Linked DNA regions of Homo sapiens: regions 2 and 3 are each linked to region 1. Evidence: fine-mapped expression QTL. A gene starts in region 1. Each other region holds a variant in brackets. All regions are shown on one strand. Distances are from middle to middle. Region 1 holds the start of CDHR1 (cadherin related family member 1). Region 2 overlaps RGR (retinal G protein coupled receptor). Region 3 overlaps GHITM (growth hormone inducible transmembrane protein).

Region 1 (4,222 bases):
TGGCTCATGCCTGTAATCCCAGCACTTTGGGAGGCCAAGATGGGTGGATCACCTGAGGTCAGGAGTTCAAGACTAGCCTGGCCAACATGGTGAAACCCCGTCTCTACCAAAAAAAAAAAAAAGAAAAAAAATTTGCTGGGCATGGTGGCGTGCACCTGTAATGCCAATATTTGAAAGGCTGAGGCAGGAGAATCACTTGAACCTAGGAGACAGAGGTTGCAGTGAGCTGAGATCCGCCATTGCACTCCAGCCTGGGTGACCGAGTGAGACTCCAGCTCAAAAAAAAAAAGAGTTTGAACCTTCTTTGGAGCCAACCCAAACTGTATGTGAATCCAAGCTCTGCACCTCAGAGAGAATAAGTCACTTGCTTGGTCGTACACAGCCAATGAGGAAATCTCCCTCCTCTGCAAAGCAGAGAAAATCACATTGGGAGAGCAGTGCAGGTCAAATAAGATAATATGGGCAAATATACATAAGCACACATACAGCACATGGCATGTAGGCTACTCCTTCCCCTTCCCTCTCCAGTGCATGGCTGTTGACTGAGGGAACTGAGGAGAGAGAAATCAACGGCCCTAGATTGGTGAGGAGCAGGGCTAACAGGACCCAGGGAGAGCTGGCTTTTCTCGGCCCACCAAGACATCTACTCCAGGAAACCTTGGCTCTGCCTCTGGCTCCTGGGAAATCCACGGCAAGACTCAGTCTCCACATCCCTATATGGGACTTGCAGAATACTTGCCTTAGCTTTGTCCCAGCACTTTGGGAGGCAGATTCAGAACATCTGTGCAATTTAAAGTGTGTCTTTTCAGCAAAAGAGCCAAGCCTAAGGAGACTCAACAAGGGTTTCGGCCAATTAGGCCTGAAAACTGCTGCACATTCTAAAACCATTGATTCATCTTCCTTCTTCTCTGCAAATCCCTGACCCTTGCTCACAGTAGATCATGTAGGGCTAGACCAAGGGATGGGGGGTGCTCTGTTCCCTCAAAGGCCCCTGGCAGGGGGAGGGGGGGAATGCTGAGTCCTCAGCTGTGGAGACCTCTCCCAGGAGCACACAGAGGAGGGATCTCCTCTATCTGAGAACACATCCACCCAAGGGCATCCTGGGAAGTGGCCTGGCTTGGGCTTGAAGTGACCTGTACCCCCATAAATGGCCCAACCAGGAAAAGGAAAACAGGCTGCATTTCCAAGCACCCTCCAGTGTCAGAGCAGGAGAACGAGGAAGCCCAAGGAGCTTTACCAGCAGCCAAAAAGGTTCCTGGGCTTACCTGTGTCTTCAAGTTATCAGCATCCAGGACCCCAATAGCAGTGCCTTGCTTTGTGTAAATACCCTCTAGGAATGAGATCTCGTGCCTCTCGGGCAGTTCAGATCTATCTTGGCCAGCTCTGTGCAAGTCTGTCCTAAGATGGGGCTTAACTCTGCCTTCAGGCCCTTCACTCTTCCTTGGAAGGTTTGAAGAGTGGGTCAGCTGCCCCTTCATGGTCCCAGACTGGGCACTGACTGGGAATGGGGAGCAGAACTGCCTCTCACCCTGGTGGACACCTGAGGGTCCTCCCTGCTGCCCACCACACAGATCAGACCCTTTGGGAGAGGTGGTCCAGCCTGGGGAACAGGGCAGGAATGGGTTGAGATCACAGAGAGGGGGTCCTGATAACCCCTTACCATCTGCTGCCCATCCATCACCCTTTCTCTTTGCCTTTGGTCTCACGCGGCTTATAGAACCTGCTTAGACTGCTAAGGCAAGGCCCTCTCGGCCGCTCCACTAACTTTTCTTCTGGAATGCTTAGCTCAGAGAAGACAGCTAAGCCCCTGAAAGTCACAGAGGAAGTTGATGAGAAAAGAAAACTGCGAAGCCCAAGCCCCACCAGGACTTAAGTACCCTGGGAAAGCCTCAGGACAACTTGGGGGAAAGACACTCCTGTCCCCCATGGTGTCCTCCTGTCCAGGACTGGGGGCCGCCGGCAAAGGGGGCGTGGCGGGCGGGGAGTCCTCTTGTCACGCCCTCCTGCCCCCGCCCGCGGCTGGGAGCCTGTCGCTCCGCTCTGCGCCGCTAATTGGTCTCGTCAGGCGGCCGGCAGGAGCAGATCCGAGCCGTGTCATCCTCTTAGCGCCCTCACGCCACCCGCCGCTCCCGCCCCGTGCCCCCTCCCGCCGCGGCTGCAGTCGCCGCTACCCCCATTGTGGTCTCTGCCCTCCCCGCGGGCCCAGGGCATGCTCCGTGCCCCTGCGCCCGGTCTCGGCGGCGGCAGGCGACACTCCGCGCCGGCGGAGACATGAGGCGCTGCCGGTGGGCCGCCCTGGCCCTGGGGCTGCTGCGCCTCTGCTTGGGTGAGTGGCCGCTGGGCCGCGCTGGCCGCGTGGATGGCGAGGGAGATGGGCGCTGGCGTCACCCAGGTGGCCAGAGGGACATGGTCCTGGACCACTTCCAGAGTGGGACTCGGGCTGGTGGACGGGAGCGGAGAAGTCCTTCCATCTTCCTGGCCCATTCGGTAGTGGGGAGTGGGGTAGCGGAGTAGTGGGGAGCTCCGGGGCGCTTCTCCAGAGCTGGCATCCTAGGGCCCCAGGGTTTGGCGCCCGGACCCCCGCTGCTCTCCGCTTGCTGGGAACCAGAGCTGTAGGCTTGGTGGCAGCTCCGATGCTGCGTGGGGCAGGAGATAGTGCCCTGACTCGCGGCTTGACCTTGGCTGGGCTGGGGCACTGCCCCTCTCCGAGCGCGGGTGCAATCTGCCCATTGATGAAGGAGGGGTTGGATTGCTACCTGGGTTCTAAGCGCCCACATGCTACGTGTCCCTGACAAGCCCGAGCCCACCGGGGGCGGAGTGGGGGTCAGGGGCATCCTCTGGGCGGCGCCCCAGTGGGGTCCCTCGGTGCACTTGGGTTGGGGAGGCGGAGCGCCCTCCTGCCCAGTAGCTGGGCCTGACGCGGGACCGCGCTGGTGCGAAGCTCCCTCCTGGTGTCTGGGTGTCCTTTGCCTGGGTGTCCGTCTGTTCTGTGTTCTTTTTCCAGCTCAGGCCAACTTCGCCCCGCACTTCTTCGACAACGGGGTCGGCAGCACCAACGGAAACATGGCTCTGTTCAGCCTCCCAGAGGACACCCCTGTAGGTGAGTAGCCCTGGCACCTGCTCCCGATAGGTCTCCCTGAGGGGTGCAGGCAGACTTAGAACACAAAGTGCCCCAGGCACCACCCAAGTTGCTGCGCGCGCCCGGGGGCTCCTTGTTTGCTCTCCGAATTCCCCTGGGCAATGGCAGGAAAGAAGGTCATTGCTGCCATGGCGACTTAAGTCTGGCCAGTCCTGGAGACCAGGGCTCCCCCCCACAGACAGGGTCGCCCCGCGAGGCAGGCAGCTACAGCTGCCCCTTATGGCTGTGTGACCTTGAACAAATGTATTTACCTCCCTGAGCCCCAGGTCTCTAGGCTTTAAAACGGCCTAAGAACATCCAACTTGCTGAGATATGCAGAGAGAGGGGAGGAGAAAGGGGAGATTTCACACTCCTTCTCCCTCACTTTGTGGGTAGTGGGAACCCGGGGAAAAGGGAGAGCAGAGCAAAGTAGGCACCTGGCTCAGAAATCCCTGCAGAACCAGGTCCAGGCATCGGGGACAGTGGTGCACTGTGGGTCACCCCTCCTGCCTTAATGGCTGCTCCCATTTCCCCTTCCCTGTACCCAGGAGCCCCTCAATCTTGGATCCTGAGAGAGGAGTTATTACCAGGCTGAGCAGAACATAGGCACTACAGTTAGGCACGGCAGACCTGCACCTGCTCTGTAACCCGTGTTATAGATTACAATCTGGAAAGTGGCTGATCATCACAACCACCCGCTGTGAAGAATAAACATACAAAGAGGGAAGCAGCCAGCAGGGGTGAGGCCAGCAATGAGCACCAAGTTCAGGGCAGTACCTTTGGCACTGAGTTGAATAGTCACTTTATAAACAGCTGAATCGTTGGTCCTGAGCATCTGCCACTTTTAGGAAAAGTTGGGTCTCAGATTCTATGTCTCTCCACTGTGTTTCCTTCCAGGCTCTCACGTATACACCCTGAATGGGACAGACCCTGAGGGAGACCCCATCTCCTACCACATCAGCTTTGACCCCAGCACTAGAAGCGTCTTTTCTGTTGACCCCACTTTTGGAAACATCACCCTGGTTGAAGAGCTGGACAGAGAGGTATGGGGAGGTGTGGGGAGTGCTGCGGGGCCACTGCCTGTAGACAGACCTCGGTGGGCTG
Region 2 (4,222 bases), 64 kb after region 1:
CACGTCTTAGGGCCTCGGCTCCCGGGAGGGCCCCGAGGTGCTGAGCTCCGTTGTTCGTGGGTTTTTTTTTCCCCAAATAAGGGACAGTTAAGAGGAAAAAAAAAGTCTCTTGGTCAACATATTTTAATAATCCAAGATGGAAGAAAATATGCCCTCTTCCAGCTTAATCACCCTCTTTGTTAAAGAAAGTCAGGTCAGGGAGAAAACAGGCAAGAACTTGAGCGTCAGAATTGCACGTCCGCGTGTTTGTGCGGGGCTGGAACTTGGCAGCTCCCGCTGAAATTAAAGCGCGAGTCTTGCGCCCCCTCATGGCCCCAGGCGGCACCCCAGCATCTCCCGCTCTCTGGACAAGCCCCTCCCCCGCTGATTGTATTTCACATTGGGAGCCCAGACAGGGTGGTCTCGCCGGGTGGCTGTAGCTGTGGATGACGAGTTGGTTCTAGGACTGAGGCCTGAGGGCAGCTCAGCCTGGGGCCCCTTGAGCACGCAGTCACAGAGCCCAGGATTCCTCTTAAAGAGCACAGACGCAGGCCAGGCACAGTGGCTCATGCTTGTAATCCCAGCACGTTGGGAGGCCGAGGCAGGAGAATCCCTTGAACCCAGGAGTTCGAGACCAGCCTAGGAAACATAGTGAGACCCCTTCTGTATTTGACAAACAAAGAGTACAGACCCAGGAGGAAGCGCTCATTATCCACCCAGTCTCGGCCTCCAGCCACGTTGGGTATTGTCAGGCCATTTTACAGACACAGCAGCTGAGGTCAGGCAAGTTTAAATAAAAGGCTTAAGGTCACACAGTCTTAAACAACAGAGAGGCCCATCTGGTCCCAAGTTCCCCTGCAGACTCAGCCCCCTCCTGAAGCCTGGTCCATGCTGCCCCGCCCTGCTGAGTGCTGACCTGGTTTTCTTGGCCACATAGGGCTGTGGGCCACCTGGAGCAAGCTGACATCTCCTGTGACAATTTCTCCCCAGGTAAACACCACTCTGCCAGCAAGGACGCTGCTGCTCGGCTGGGGCCCCTATGCCATCCTGTATCTATACGCAGTCATCGCAGACGTGACTTCCATCTCCCCCAAACTGCAGATGGTACAGATACTTCTAGTACCTAAAACTAGACCCCTCTCCATCTTTGTTCTCTGTCTCATCTCATCTCACTTTCTGGATTTATGACCTCTGTGTCAGTCTCTTCCTTTCTGTGTTTCTTCCTTTGGATACTCACAAGGCATAGAGCATTAGTTTGCCCCCCTAATCCCCCACCTCGTCTCTGAGTCATACCAGGCTGCTGCTTGACATTGCCCAAACCTCATGTGAGATGACAGGGACAGCCAGCCAGATGGTGTAGATAAAGACTCTGTGACCAGGGGTTGAGATTAGTCCCCAGGCTGGGAGCAGGTGGGTCTGGACAAGAGTATGGCTCCATGGACTCCGTGAGCCATGCATCTCCACCAACTAGTCAGGGAAGCCTCCAAGGCTGCAGAACTAAATGATTGGCAGTTGTAGGTGGAGGGTGACCGGGGTCACCAGGTGAGACCAGAGAGAGGATCAGTGGCTTTGAAGCTTCTTTTCTGGACTTTTCTGCCACAACAGGTGCCCGCCCTCATTGCCAAAATGGTGCCCACGATCAATGCCATCAACTATGCCCTGGGCAATGAGATGGTCTGCAGGGGAATCTGGCAGTGCCTCTCACCGCAGAAGAGGGAGAAGGACCGAACCAAGTGAGCCTGCCACCCTGGAGTGAGCCCCAGGCCAGGAGGCTGTTCCAGGAGTCCTGCCCAGCAGCCTCAGTGGCCAAGCCCAGACACTCACCCACCTTCCCCAGTGGCCCCGTGGATCCTGGTCCTAGGCTGGACACAGGATTCAGAAAGACACCAGGCTGCACAGAAAGAGCCAGATGGACCTGAGTGTCGGTCACAGCCCCCTACACTCAAGGCTGAGAGGCCTCAGGAAAGTCATTCCTTTTTAAAAATAATAATAAATGTAAGGGGGTACAGTGCAGTTTTGTTACATGGATAGATTGCCTAGTGGTGAAGTCTGGGCTTTTAGTGTAACCATCACCCTAATAATATACGTTGTACCCATTAAGTTATTTCTCATCCCTCACCCCCTCCCACCTTGTCACCCTTCTGAGTCTCCAATGTCTATTATTCCACACTCCATGTCCACGTGTACACATTATTTAGCTCCCACTTACAAGTGAGAACATGTGGTATTTGACTTTCTGTTTTTGAGTTATTTCACTTAAAATAATGACCTCCAGTTTCATCCATGTTGCTGCAAAAGACATGATCTCGTTCTTTTTTATGGCAGTGTAGTATTCCATTCCATATACATATATAAACGTTATATATATGTAACGTTTTCTTTATCCAATCATCTGTTGATGGATAGATTCCATATCTTTGCTACTGTAAA[C/CAG]AGCTGTGATAAGCATACAAGTGCAGGTTTCTTTTTGATATACTGATTTCTTTTCCTTTGGGTAGATACCAGTAGTAGGACTGCTGGATCAAATGGTAGCTCTATTTTTAAGACAGTATGGAGAAATCACCATACTGTTTTCCATAGGGGTTGTACTAATTTACAGTCCCACCAACAGTGTATAGGTGTTCCCTTTTCTCTGCATCCTTACCAATATCTGTAATTTTTTGACTTTTTAATAATAGCCATTCTCACTTGTGTGAGATAAGGTCTCATTGTGGTTTTAATTTCCATTTCTCTGATGACTTTTGATGTTAAGCATTTTTTCATATGCTTCTTAGCCACGTGTATGTATTCTTTTTGAAAAAATGTTTATTCATGTCTTTTGCCCACTTTTTAATGGCATTATTTGGATTTTTTTTGTTGAGTTATTTGAGTTTCTTATATATTCTGGATAATAGTCTGGATAATATATTCTGGATAATATATAATAGTCTTATATATTCTGGATATATTCTGGATACATGGTTTGCAAATATTTTCTCCGGTTCTGCACGTTGTTCATTCTGTTGATGGTTTATTTTGCTGTGCAGAAACTTTTTTAGTTTAATTAAGTCCCATTTGTCTATTTTTGGTTTTGTTGCTTGTGCTTTTGAGGTTTCTGTCATGAATTCTTTGCCTAGACCAATGCCCAGAAGAGTTTTTCCTAGATTTTCTTCCAAGATTTTTATAGTGTCCATTCTTACACTTAAGTCTTTAATCCATCTTGAGTTGATTTTTTTTTTTTTAAGACGGAGTCCTGCTCTGTCACCCAGGCTGAAGTACAGTAGCACCATCATAGCTCACTGCAACCTTTGCCTCCCAGGTTCAAGCAGTTCTCATGCCTCAGCCTCCTAAGTAGCTGGGATTACAGGCATGCGCTACTATGTCTGGCTAATTTTTTGGGGTTTAGTAGAGACAGGGTTTCACCATGTTGAACAGGCTGTCCTCAAATTCCTGACCTCAGGTGATCCACCCACCTTGGCCCCCAAAGTGCTGGGATTACAGGCATGAGCCACCGTGTCTATCCTTGAGTTGATTTTTATATATGGTAAGAGATATGGGTCCAGTTTCATTCTTCTGCATATGGCAATTTAATTTTCCCAGCACCATTTATTGAAAAGGTGTCCTAACATCACTCCTTCTAAATCCTCTAACCCTTAACATAAGGATGTTAACATGGACATCACAGGGTTGTTGTGAGGCTTGAAGATAACATGTACTCACTAAGCACATAGAAAATACTCATTAAAACAGAGCTGTTCGTTAAGTCTTGGCCATGCCTTGCAGGGACTCAGTCTTACATAGAAAGGGGTAAAAGCCCCAGGGTTTGCTTATGGGACCTCAAGCCAGGCTGCCAGCATTCAAACACCATGTATTAAATCGTGATCTGCTGCCCGTCACTTCCTCTGCCTGTGCATCGTTTCCCAAGTTGGGAGGTGAGATGATGGAAGTGGCAACTTGACTACACAGAAAGGACCAGAACATTCCCTGTCATGGTAAGTGCTCATGGAGTATCAGCCACCAGTACATGCCAGTCAAAGACAGCCTCTGGTAATACGGGGCTAGGCCTGCACATTACTTTAAAATGTTTTGAGGTTTGTTGCCAACATTTAAAAATCAGGACAGTTTATTTAAATCCAGATGTCAGAAGATGAGGCTTTACCCGGCTGCCTTCCTACATTGTTACAGTTTGTAGAGCTCAGGGCAGCTCGGCCCTTTGCCCAGGACACATGCTCTTGTGTCAACCTCAGTGCCTGTGTCCCCTGTTGAT
Region 3 (4,222 bases), 39 kb before region 1:
CAAAAGGAAATAACTTTAAAACTATTCTCAAGAGAAAATATTCAAAGCATGAAATATGTTGCTTTTTCCAGAATACAAACAGTATACTCATGATTGCTAAGTGTTTTTTTATTTTTGCATATTTATTGAACTGTCTAATTGAATACAGCTTGCTCTTGTCACCTCTTCAAGCTTTCAAGCCTTTATAGAAAAGCTTCTTTGTGGCTTACACTGGAAATTATGAAAGCAGTTTTTCTCCTAAGACTTTTGGTTTCTCGCATTGCCTCTCAGACTAAGCACTAAAAAGCAAAGCAAAACAGAACTAGTTCTGTCTTAATGAAATATATCAACCCAAAAGTGTAATGAGGAAAATGCTTCATTAGTTTCCCCTAGCAGACTTTTACTTCTCTTACACTGCTACACCATTACTTTCTTGAGACATTTGTAAGTTCTTTGATACAGAAGAGTTATATTTAGAAGTCTTTAATGAAGGGAAAGAAGTCTGTATGATGACTGAGGTGATTGCTCTTTTTGACAAATGTTTATTACAGTAATGCAGAAATACTGTTAATCATCTCAAAGTACATAGGAGGCTTATTTCTGAAACAAAGGTTTCAGCCAGATGTTGATTAGTCTAATTTTTCCAAGTGAATCATATGCATGCCATTTGAATAGGGATTTCTTCAAGAAAGCAACTTAGTTTCTTGCCAGTATAGTATAGTGCAGTGTGATAAGTACATGATACTTGTAGCTAGACTACCTCTATTTGAATCTCAACTCTTATTTCTTATGTGACCTTGGGCAAATTACTTAACCTCTGTGTGCCCAGTTTCCTCTCCTGTAAAATGAATATATTGGAACCTGTCTTATAGGTTTATGGTTAAACGTGCAGGCACTTAGTAAGCATTACATAAGTCTTAGCTATTGATGCTTTTTTTTATTAGTAAAAATGTAAATGCCAATTTTCTATTTTTCTTCTCCCCATCCTGATACCCATATCAGTGTGATCTTAAAGTGCCTGTTTTCCTTAGTCACCTTTTAGAACCCAAAGTTTATGTCTTTTTTAAATTAATATCACACACAAAATGATATCATTTCAGTGATGGTATCAGGCAGTTTATCTAGAAAACCAAGGATTTTTTTACTGTTTTACTTTTTTTTTAAATAGAGGGGTTCAGTTTGGTCTTAAATTGGATTCAAACAATCCACTCACCTTGGCCTTCCTAAGTGTCGGCATTACTAGCTTGAGCCACTGCCCCCATCCTGGGTTGTTTTGTTGTTGTTGTTGTCGTTGTTGTTAATTTAATGACATTATGTTATTGGACTTCTTCTGACTTTGCTAAGACAATGAAGGCTATGCAAAATAATATATAAAATGTGGCCGGGTGCGGTGGCTCACGCCTGTAATCCCAGCACTTTGGGAGGCCGAGGCAGGCAGATCATGAGGTCAAGAGATGGAGACCATCCTGGCCAACATGGTGAAACCCTGTCTCTACTAAAAATACAAAAATTAGCTGGGCATGGTGGTGTGCATCTGTAGTCCCAGGTACTTGAGAGGCTGAGGCGGGAGAATCGCTTGAGACAAGGAGGCGGAGGTTGCTGTGAGCCAAGATCGCGCCACTGCACTCCAGCCTGGCAACAGAGCAAGACTCCGTCTCAAAAAGATAAATAAATAAATAACATATAAAAGGTAAGCTGATATATAAAATGTGATCGTTTGTAAAACATACCAGTTGTAAATGGTAATAGAAAAAAATCACTAGTTTCTTGGCTCTTAACATACCACAGAGTTTTTGTTTTTTTTTTTCCTCATTCACAGCGAAGAGTAATGACCTGCAAAGTGATAGGCTTTAGGTAAAAAAGTAAATGTCCATTTTTCATTTTCTGACATCGTCTGAAATACTAGAGGATAAATGAAACATGTTTTAAAATAATCCCGAGAAAAAAGGCCCTTTGAGTTGTTGCTTAAAATGGCATCTACTGAACAGTCAGAAAACATGAATTTTTTATGTAACAGGTGCCATGCTAGCTGGGCCCAGGGGAGACAATGATGAATAAAAGTAATTGCCTTCTAAAGCATATCAAATCCGTGTAAACACGGCCATAGGCCATTGGATGAGTGTCACAGAAAGGTAAGCAAAATGGAAATGCAGACTGAATAATAAGTTTCTAAGATGGCCCAGGAGGAAATTTTCAAGAGTAAGCATAGTAGGTAAAGCACACAGAAAAAGGTAGTATGGGCATTTCATACAATGGATGCTTGATGGGGGAGGGCTGCAGGGAGAGATGGACAAAGTGGAAAAAGATGGTAAGAAATGGAAATTCTCTTGAAGCTGGATTTCCCACTTGCTGCGGGTGTGTGCTTTGC[T/C]TAACATGTTAAAACCTGCAGGCGTGGTGGCTCATGCCTGTAATCCCAACACTTCGGGAGGCTGAGGCAGGAGGATTGCTTGAGCCCAGGAGTTCAAGACCACTCTGCACAACAAAAAAACCCATCTCTACCAAAAATTTAAAAATCAGCAGGGTGCAGTGGCGCATGCCTGTAGTCCCAGCTACTCAGGAGGATTGCTTAAGTCTAGCATTTCGAAGCTGCGATTGTGCCACTGCACTCCTGCTGGGCAAAAAAAAAAAAAAAAAACTAGGAAGACAGGCAGGCATGTTTACCTTGAAATTGTATCTGGGTAACGTGTCCAGGTTAAAGGTACTAAAACTGAGTGATACCCAAGACATATAATTCCAGTGGGGTAGGGTGGCCCAGCTACACTAGTAATAGCTGATGTTTGAATTGAACTCTTTGCCCAAAGTTTGATCTTTGCACAAGGTCATATGGCTGGGAAGAATAATGAGACAAACTCCCTAACCAATTATGCCGGGAGGATAGATGATAGATCTAAAATCGTGTAGGACACAGCCATATAAAAGAAAGCAAGCTTGTCCTTATAGAGTTAGCTGGAGGCCATCATCCTGTTACAAACAACAAATTAACCCAGGAACAAAAAAACAAATGCCCCATGTTCTCACAAATGGGAACTAAACATTGGCTACTCATGGACATAAAGATGGTAATAATAGATACCTGGGATTCCTAGAGGAAGGAGTGGGGCAAGGGTTGAAAACCTATTGGACACTGTGCTCGGTATCTGGGTGATGGGATCATTGGTACTCCAAACCTCAGCATCACGCAGTATACACAAGTAACAACCTGCACATGTATTCCATGAATCCAAAGTAAAAGTTGAAGAAGTAGAATTTTGCTTGAGAATCACAAAAGCACTATACAAATTAAATAGGTTGAGATTCTATTAAAGTGTAAGTCACTTTTAAAATCTTGGGAATCAGTATTCTGAGTAAATTAAAGGAAATAGAACAGGAACATTTTAGTTTTCTGTGAAAAAAAAATTGACCTCAGTGAAGGATACTGGAAATCATCGTGCCTTCCTCACATCTATTTCTTACGGTACAAAATAGTCCTTTTTTGTATTGCCCAGTTCACTCCGAGCTACAAATCAAAATTGACCATTTTTTAAGGTCAATTTCATCAATAAGATGAAATCCTAAATGCATTCCATTTTTAACTAGCACAAAATGGAAATGACTTTTCAGGAATAGATTAGAAAGCTATGACCTTGAGGACTTTCCACCTTTAAAGTAAGATTCTTTTGTGAAGCAATTCAGGAAGATGGACGGTGAACATTCAATTCATTAACATCTGAGAACCATGAAGAGAGTATTTTTTGCCACAAGCAAAAATGAACCTAAATAAAAGACTGGTGGGGGAGGAGAATCATAACGACCATTATGGCCCGCATCTTATGGGCTGCTGCGCAGTTAGCATGAGGGGAGGCCTTGCACAAGCTCTTCCCCTCAGCCTCAGCATCCTGTTCTGCCTCATTTGTGGCTTGCGTCAGACTGAGTCACCCAGCGCAATGTCACTCTTCCTCAGGGGACTTCTCTCAACCTTCCACCTTCTACAGAGAGCTTGATGGATGGTGAGGTTGTTGCAACCTCACTGGATACAGATAGTAGAAGTGCGAGGATCCCCGTGGCTACACTCGAGATAAAATTAATGTGTTCTGGCAGGACTGAATGGACGTTTTTCCTCACAACCGTATACGCAAGTTTAGTAGTTTTTAAACATTCAATTTATGCTTTCCACTGGGCAATTTGTAAAAGCAGCATGATGACCCACAGGTATGGTGTCAGTGGGCCATCATTCCTCCAAGTTAACCCTCCATATGCCTGACAT

The links. PIP is the estimated chance that this variant, and not a neighbour inherited with it, causes the effect. A credible set is the group of variants that fine-mapping cannot tell apart.
Region 2: its variant is the best candidate, but not a certain one, in a credible set for the expression of CDHR1 in spinal cord (GTEx, PIP 0.76).
Region 3: its variant is the best candidate, but not a certain one, in a credible set for the expression of CDHR1 in whole blood (TOPMed, PIP 0.84).

The regions. Positions count from the first base shown.
Region 1 is chr10:84,192,490-84,196,711 of GRCh38, forward strand. CDHR1 (cadherin related family member 1) reads left to right here and starts at 2,048. Exons shown (of 17, transcript NM_033100.4): 1 at 2,048-2,326; 2 at 3,005-3,100; 3 at 4,016-4,161. The coding sequence starts at 2,272. RefSeq lists silencers at 1,944-2,073, 2,144-2,263.
Region 2 is chr10:84,256,924-84,261,145 of GRCh38, forward strand. It overlaps RGR (retinal G protein coupled receptor), which reads left to right. Exons shown (of 7, transcript NM_001012720.2): 6 at 970-1,083; 7 at 1,585-3,037. The coding sequence ends at 1,716. Among named protein-coding and RNA genes, the nearest start is that of RGR, 14 kb to the left of the region's middle. The variant C/CAG (reference allele first, on the strand shown) is at 2,410.
Region 3 is chr10:84,153,083-84,157,304 of GRCh38, forward strand. GHITM (growth hormone inducible transmembrane protein) reads left to right here. Exons shown (of 9, transcript NM_014394.3): 9 at 1-486. Among named protein-coding and RNA genes, the nearest start is that of GHITM, 16 kb to the left of the region's middle. RefSeq lists an enhancer at 2,230-2,743. The variant T/C (reference allele first, on the strand shown) is at 2,348.